2 separate regions of the Homo sapiens genome follow, and region 1 is linked to region 2. Evidence: fine-mapped expression QTL. A gene starts in region 2. The other region holds a variant in brackets. All regions are shown on one strand. Distances are from middle to middle. Region 1 overlaps ORC2 (origin recognition complex subunit 2). Region 2 holds the start of HYCC2 (hyccin PI4KA lipid kinase complex subunit 2).

The links. PIP is the estimated chance that this variant, and not a neighbour inherited with it, causes the effect. A credible set is the group of variants that fine-mapping cannot tell apart.
Region 1: its variant is the best candidate, but not a certain one, in a credible set for the expression of HYCC2 in whole blood (INTERVAL, PIP 0.55).

The regions. Positions count from the first base shown.
Region 1 is chr2:200,915,774-200,920,173 of GRCh38, forward strand. All of the region lies in intron 15 of ORC2 (origin recognition complex subunit 2), which reads right to left. Among named protein-coding and RNA genes, the nearest start is that of NIF3L1, 29 kb to the left of the region's middle. The variant A/AG (reference allele first, on the strand shown) is at 2,120.
Region 2 is chr2:201,069,161-201,073,560 of GRCh38, forward strand. HYCC2 (hyccin PI4KA lipid kinase complex subunit 2) reads right to left here and starts at 2,511. Exons shown (of 13, transcript NM_001321623.1): 1 at 2,450-2,511. It overlaps NDUFB3 (NADH:ubiquinone oxidoreductase subunit B3), which reads left to right and starts at 2,841. Exons shown (of 3, transcript NM_002491.3): 1 at 2,841-2,899. RefSeq lists enhancers at 1,984-2,123, 2,114-2,739, 2,224-2,493, 2,514-2,603, 2,740-3,363.

The DNA of each region.
Region 1 (4,400 bases), 150 kb before region 2:
ACCTTGGCCTCCCAGGTTCAAGCGATTTTCATGCCTCAGACTCCTGAGTAGTTGCGATTACAGGTGGACACCACCACGCCCAGCTAATTTTTTATATTTTTAGTAGACACAACGTTTTACCATGTTGGCCAGGCTGGTCCTGAACTCCTGGCGTCAAGTGATCCGCCCACTTCAGCCTCCCAAAGTGCTAGGATTATAGGAGTGAGCCACCGCATCCGGCCCTCAATGACTACTTTTTAACTAGGTACTACTACTAACTCCAGAGCTGAATTTTGGTTAAAATTTTTATTCAATCACATACCAAGTAAAGTCTAAATGATACTGGAGTTTGCAGAATCAAGCAAAATTTCAAAATAGTTTAAATAAGAAAATGCTGAGGCTAGCACACAGACATTTAGGCATGCCAAACTAAAAAATACTTGCATTAGACTGGGCATGGTGGCTCATGCCTGTAATCCCAGCACTTTGGGAGGTCAAGGTGGGTGGATCACTTGAGGTCAAGAGTTCAAGACCAGCCTGCCCAACATGGTGAAACTCCATCTCTACTAAAAATACAAAAATTAGCCAGGTGTGGTGGTGCATGCCTCTAGTCCCCGCTACTTGTGGGATGCTGAGGCATGAAAATTCCTTAAACCCCAGAGAGGGAGGTTGCAGTGAGCCGAGATCTTGCCACTGCACTCCAGCCTTGGCGACACCATGAGTCTCCATCTCAAAAAAAAAACTTGCATCAGCGTAGCCAGTGCCATATTTAACGTTTTGAGTTCTCACACTGCATGGACCCTCAACTTTACACACAGCAACTTCCAACAGTCCTTCAGCAGTTAAGGACTTTTATTATTAGTAATAACAAAACAGAATGAAGACTTTGTCCCCAATTCCATCAAAAAATTTCATTAGATAACCATTTAATGCCTATTTCAATTTTTTTATTTTATTTTATTTTATTTGAGACGGAGTCTCGCTCTGTCGCCCAGGCTGGAGTGCAGTGGTGCGATCTCGGCTCACTGCAAGCTCCGCCTCCTGGGTTCACGCCATTCTCCTGCCTCTGCCTCCTGAGCAGCTGGGACCTCAGGTGCCCGCCACCACGCCCGGCTAATTTTTTAGTAGAGATGGGATTTCACCATGTTAGCCAGGATGGTCTTGATCTCCTGACCTCGTGATCTGCCCGCCTTGGCCTCACAAAGTGCTGGGATTACAGGTGTGAGCCACTGTGCCCCACCTTTTTTTTTTTTTTTTTTTGAGACAGAGTCTCACTCTGTTGCACAGGCTGGAGTGCAGTGGTGTGATCTTAGCTCAATGCAACCTTTACCTCCTGGGTTCAAGCGATTCTCCCTCCTCAGCCTCCCAAGTAGTTGGGATTACAGGCATGCACCACCATGCCCAGCTGATTTTTTAATTTTTAGTAGAGATGCGGTTTCACCATGTTGGCCAGGCTGGTCTCGAACTCCTGACCTCAAACGATCTGCCTGCTTCAGCCTCTCAAAGTGCTGAGATTACAAGCATGAGCCACCGCGCCCAGCCTGCATATTCCAATATTAATGCAAGGCTTTATTTTTACTTTTTGTAGAGATGGGGTCTACGTTGCCCAGGTTCGTCTCAAACTCCTGGCCTCATGCAATCTTCCCTCCTCAGGCTCCCAAAGTAGTAGAATTATAGGGGTGAGCCACTATGCCTGGCCGAGTTGAATGCTAATCTCATCTTCAGTGTTCAAATCAGCTTTACAGAGTAACAACATTCATTAAAATTAGCATTTGAGGGTTAACATTTGAGTCTTGTGGTGATGGTACAGCTGAGTGTATACATGGAGGTGGCAGTCATACAAGGCTACAAGTGACAAAACTGCACAGAACTTACACACACGAGTGCAGCATGTATAATAGTGAAATCCAAATATGGATGGGATTATAACAATGTCAATTTCTTGGTTCTGATACTGTACTGTGTTTATATGAGATGGTGGTGGTTGGTGGAAGTTGGTGCTTTGGGAGGAGGGTACATGAGACTTCCCTGCATGTATTTTTGTAGCTTCTTCTGAATCTATAATCATCTCACAACAAAAAGTTAATCCCTCCACCACAAACACACAGGTAAAAGAAAAATAAATGGAAAATAAATTGCT[A/AG]GGGGGGGTTAAAAAAAAAAAAGATATCCCCAAAGTCCCTGTGTACACTCTCCTCTATCTATTCCCCTTTATTCTTCTCCAGGGTTGGTACCTAATTTTTTTTTATTATTTTTAGTACCTAAAAAGACCTAATTCCATGCACATTTTAAACTTTTATTCATACTGATATATACATTTGAATGCTATATATTTTATATGGTTTTATTTCTACAACAAACATCTGTTCAGTTCAGCATTTGTCCTAAACGAAAATATCTGGTTTGGACAATATATATCGTCACACTACTATCATCCCATATAAGTCAATATCCTGGCTGCCAATGCTGCTTCTAAACCAAGAATGCAGCTGTGCTGTGGCTTCAACTCTGCTCACTGATTTATCATTCTGTTGTATTGAGATGTTTGTATTTTGAGCCAGGGTATTTATTTTTAAATTCTGTCTATTATGCTGTGTGTTTGGAACAAGAGGGGATGAAAGGAAAGAGTGAGAAGTATTATGCCATCTTGACCACAAGTGTCCCTTCATTGCTCTTTAAAAACAAAAAAGAAATTGTCTCTGCTAGACTTGCTTGTTCCCTCTTTTTTTCTTTTTTCTTCTTTCTTTTTTTTTTTTTGAGACAGAGGCTCACTCTGTCACCCAGGCTGGAGTGCAGTGGCGTGATCTTGGCTTACTGCAACCTCCGCCTCCTGGGTTCAAGCGATTCTCCCACTTCAGCCTCCCAAGTAGCTGGGATTACAGGTGTGTGCCACCAAGTCCGGCTAATTTTTGTGTTTTTAGTAGAGACAGGGTTTCAGCATGTTGACCAGGATAGTCTCGAACTCCTGACTTCAAGTGATCCACCCGCTTCGGCCTCCCAAAGTGCTGGGATTACAGGTGTGAGCTACCACACCCAGCTGACTGTTTATTCTTTAGGAAACTAAATTTTCTTTCAAATTTAAAACAAAAAAATTCATTTACATTTTGACTAATTTATAGATCTAATACCTGTTTTTCTGGAGACAGGGTCTTGCTCTATCACCCAGGCTGGAGTGCAGTGGCGCAATCTCGGCTCCCTTCAGCCTCCTCAGCTGAGACTATGGGTGTACACCACCACACTCAATTAATTTTTAAAATTTTTTGTAGAGATGTAGTCTCCCTATGTTGCCCAGGCTGGTCTCAAGGTCCCAGCTGGAGCAATCCTCCTGCCTTAGCTTCGCATAGTGTTGGGATTACAGGCTTGAGCCACTGTGCCTGGCAAGTCTAACACATTTCTAACTTGGAAAGAATTGCTACTCTTATAATATTTAATCTACCCACCCAAGAACACAATATTTCTTTTCATCTATCCAGCTCTTAATTATCTATTCTCAGCAAGGTTTGTTATTTTTCAACACTTCATCTTGTTAAATATAATTCTATAATTTTATGCTTTTGTCAGGGGGTAAAGTTTGTTACTAAAAGCTTCTTTCAACAGGCTAATTATGCAATTTCTTTATTATTTTTTTGAGACAGAGATTGCTCTGTCACGCAGGCTGGAGTGCAGTGGTGCAATCTCAGCTCACTGCAACCTCTGCCTCCTGGGTTCAAGCAATTCTCCGGCCTCAGCCTCTTGAGTAGCTGAGACTACAGGTGCGTGCCACCACACCTGGCTAATTTTTGTATTTTTGGTAGAGATGGGGTTTCCCCATGTCGGCCAGGCTGGTCTCGAACTCCTGACCTCAAGTGACCCACCTGCCTTGGCCTCCCAAAGTGCTGGTATTACAGGTGTAGGCCACTGCGTCCGGCTAATTATGCAATTTATTTTTTGCTGGCTTATGCTATAACCAGCTTGCATTTATTAATTCAGATATGCCTCTAGGTTAGGCTGCTGTAAGGGCTTGACTGGAGACATTATACAGTGATGTTTAAGAGCATGAGTTTTGGAGCTGGCATATCTGGATCAAAGTCTTTGTGCCACTGACTATCCACCTTAGTTAGGATCAAATGAAGTAATGCATATAAAGTACTCACTGTTTGGATCAGAATGTTCAATATGTAATGAAAAATAACCATAAAATTTAAGTAAAAGTCATGAAAAGTCTGCTTTTTCTCCATTATGACCAGTCAGGTGCTCATATTCAGAAATATCAAAGAAATAAAAAGTTGGTATTCTCGCTTTATTACTGGGCAATTTGATAGACTACTGTTGACTTGTCTGCCTACTCCATAATCCAGTACTGGTAACTATTATTACTATAATTTCACTTAATCCTTCAACTAACTAGGGACTTCAGTATCCCCATTAAAACCTAGTAGTACATA
Region 2 (4,400 bases):
AACTACTACAAGATGCCAAAACTGTATTGCAAATAATCAAACTTAAATCTGAATTGCATGTCAAGACAGTTAAAGGGCCGGGCTAAAAAACACACTTTCAAGGTCTATTTTAGGGCAAACAATTAAACTCCTTTACAATCATTGTTTCAAATTCCTTATAAACAGCTCCAATACTGAAATGTTTCATCAGAGAGAACTTCTATAACGTATAAACGATCATCTAACCACACTATATGCTAATTTGGACTAGTGTTTCTTTAGCTACTTGGTAATTTCCTACTCGATACTCAACTTACTGCATTCTACAATGACACCTACTGGCCATTCAAAATCAGCCATTAGTTCTCTAAGACAGCTCTAGTAGGCTGGTTACATAAGAAGAAACACACACACACACACACACACACACACACACACACACACACACACGCATAAAAGCAACACACACACACACACGCATAAAAGCAAAGATTTAACTGGTACTCAAAACACTACAGAATTCCACCTAAAATAGAACCAGAAATTTTCTTTGTGACTGAGATTGCATTATTCTTGGAAAAGGAGAAAAGACAAAGAACAAAACACCAAACATCAATAAAAATTTTTATCTAAAGCACTGACAAATGTCTCAGTACTGAGAACATCTGGGAACAAACAACTTTAATGATGCACCTCTTTCCCAATTAAATTTTTGAGAAAAAATGAAATTTTGATTTAGGTTCATATATAGGAATATAAATTACCATTAATAGAAAAAAATCACATCTTATAAAGTTTTTCTGACATGCAGTACCGAAATAAATTTAGGAAAATTGTAGAGTTGCTGACACTACATTAGACCTTATCTCCTAAGCTAAAGGCAATATTTCAAACACCTTACATTTTAGAAATTTATAACACTTCTTTTAAAATCATTTTCCAGTGCTGCTCTCAAAATTGTTTTTCAATGACCTACAAAATCAAGTTTTTATGTCGTTTGCCCTTCCATAACACATACTGAATAGAATTCCTATTTTAATTCTACATTTTATTGTGGAAACAATGAATTATAAAATTTTTTTAAATAAGATAATTTAGTTAATTATATCTATAAATATATTTTGCCTCTGTCCGAGAGGTTCAGAGTCCACTTTTTAAACCTAATAAATAATTCATAAGTAGCTTCTCAGACTTGCTTACAGAACAAACTACTTAAAAGTTGACTTTTTTCTGCCGGGCACGGTGGCTCACGCCTGTAATCCCAGCACTTTGGGAGGCCGAGGCGGGCGGATCATCTGACGTCCGGAGTTCGAGACCAGCCTGACCAACATGGAGAAACCCCGTATCTACTAAAAATACAAAATTAGTCGGGCGTGGTGGCGCATGCCTGTAATCCCAGCTACTCCGGAGGCTGGGGCAGGAGAATGGCTTGAACCCGGGAGGCGAAGGTTGCTGTGAGCCGAGATCGCGCCATTGCACTCCAGCCTGGGCAACAACAGCGAAACTCCGTCTCAAAAAAAAAAAAAGTTTATTTTTTTCCCCATATTCAGACCACCACCTTATTTGCACAGTCCCTAACTTCCACAATATCCTGGGGGGAGGAAGGGATCTACCAACTAATTTTCTAGTCATTTTCCAACTTACACTGAGCTCCTACTGTACATTTTTAAAGGATTCCCCACTTTTCTGAAGATCTTTAAAAAATGTTGTCAGCCTTGACCCTCAAATAAATTCACGAACTACAAAACATGAACCTGGCCACATTCATCGCAAACTAGTATCTGTCAAGTCCATAATTGGGATAAGCTCTTCGTGACTACTCTATCCTCCATGCTACCACCCTTCGCCTAGAGAACCTGCCAATGTAAATGGCACTCAAGCCAATGAAAAAAGTGTTCTAACACATTAATAGGTTGCAAGACCTCCTCTCCCAGGAGGGACAACCTAGTTGTTTGGGTAAATAACAGCCAAAGATTACATAATGTACAGCAATAATGAGTGTTCAGAATCTGACCGCCAGTAAATATTTTTCTTCTCCGCTCCCCCTCACCACCCCCAGGAAATGGCCCTAAGAAGCAATCACTGGGATTTCTCTTAACTGTCTTCAATGCCGTGTCCTTTTCTCGCCTGGGGCTTTGTGCAAAGAATCCCTTCAGCCCTCACGACACCGCCTTGCTCCCGCCTCTCCTCCCTCTCTGCTGGCGCCACCGCAGCCCCCACGCCCTAGGTGGGCCCCCACGTCGCCCCACAAGGCTCGGCTTCCACCCGCCTCGGCTGCCGCCTTCTCCTCCTCACGACCCTCCCAAGATGCTACCTGGTTTACGAGAGGTTCCGGGACCACCAACACACCGGCTACCGCCTTTCCAGACCACCCTCGCCAGCTCCCGTCTGTAGTTTCCGCGGCCGAAGGAGAAGAAAACCCCTCTTCATCTAGCACTTTGCCTCCCCCAAAGACAGCACCGCCGCCTACCTGTCACCCTGCTGTCTCCGGCTTCCTACCGCCGCCGCCTCCCGCAGCAGCCTGCCAACTGCAGCGCAACAACCAACCCTCTCATTGGGTGAGAACACGCTCTCAACAACAGCCTCCCTTATTGGCTGCAGTATGCCGGCAGCCCCGCCCTGTGTGCGGTGTCTAAGGATTCCGTCCCCAAGCAAGGACAACATATTATCTTCCCCGCCCTTCTCTTTTCTACAGTATCTGTTACCTCAGTCAGATTGAGGATGCACATATACTGGGAAAATAATCGACTTCCAGCGTCCCTCATGTAGTCTCTACCTGATTCAGGAATCTCTAACCCAGTATCGGAACGTTAAGCGGCTTCTCCGCTTTCCTGCCGTGAGAAACTCGAGGTGACAACCTCCGTTTCCGGTTGGCTCCGGTTGCAGAGTTGAGTGTCCTGAGAGGTCAGATTGCTGTCAGGTAAATTAGGGAGTTGGTGGGAGGCCCGTTGATTAGGATTAAGAGCTAGACTCTATTCTGGGGAGTGCAGAAAAGGAGAGACTAAATGGAGAAGGATGGGAGGCTGGGAGGGAGATCAAAGAACTAGCAGGCGAGAACTAATGAAGTCCTAGTTTAGAGTTGGGGTAGGAAGAGGTGGTTGGAGGATTCAGTGATCATTACTGTAGTTGTTAAATCCAGGTGCTTGTTCCCGCTTCTGCCACACGCAAAATTGTCTTTGTTTGCCTTTGGATCGCAAAGGCAGAAGAACAGCATCACTAAAAGTAATAACAGTTCATTTGTTTTTTATGTTCTAATATTCATATAATCACAGTTTTTAATACGAGGAAGTTAAGATATATACTTGATAGTCTTCGGTAAACTAAAATTGCATGTAGTGGAAGTAGCATTATCTTCTTATTTCTTTCTTAGGGAAAGGATACCAGCACATTTTCTTAGAGCCAGCTTCCTTTAGTGGAGGTTGATCTTCATGAGACTTTTAGATTCACTTCAGACATAGATAGCTTTTAAAATTTTTGGTTGCATGTTTTTTCTTTATTTAACTAATTTCCTTACTGTTATTATTTGAGCTGCTCTGAAACGGAAATAACCACCATTTTTCAGTCCTCAGCACAATTTAAGTCAATTTTTCTATTTTTATTTTTTATTGTCAAGTATATATACAGAAGGGTGTATAAAACATACATTTTAAAAAATTATAACTAACAGAAGCAGACACTCCTGTATCCACCTCTTAGATTAGAAAATAAAGCATTGCCAATAACTTAGAACATGCAGTCTTAACAGGGGTGATTTTACATTTCAAGGGGTTGAAAATTGGTGGGGCCGGGGTCGGAATCTTAGTTACTACAATGATTTGTGTCCCTCCAAAGGGCCACAGTATATAAACAGTTATACAGTATATATGTAGTGTTAAATTTTCATGGCGGGGGGTGTGATTAGGAATAAAATGTCTAGAAAGGTTCCTTACAGGGACAATAGTTAAAAATTGGTTGAAAAACACTGCCTTAGAATCTCCCAGTATGTTTCTGTGATTCCATCTCCTCCACCAAGAGGTAACCATTATCCTGACTTGTGCTAAGCACTCACTTGTTTTACTTTAATTTTTCCGTCTATGATGAATTCCTAAAAAATGAATTGTTAGGCATTTCAATCTATATAAATGGGTTCAGAGTGCATGTGTATTTTTTTCTGACTCACCCCTTGCTCATTATCCATATTTGTGGAGATTCAATCACACTTTTGCATGTAGTTTTTTGTTGTATAATATTCTACAGTGTGACTATACCATAATCCCTTCTATTGTTATTGGACATTTGGGTTGTTTACAGTTGGGAGAGAGAATAAACAATGTGGCTATAAAGGTTCTTTTAAAAACATATTTCTTAGGCTGGGCACGGTGGCTCACGCCTGTAATCCCAACACTTTGGGTGGCCGAGGCAGGCGGATAATGAGGTCCAGA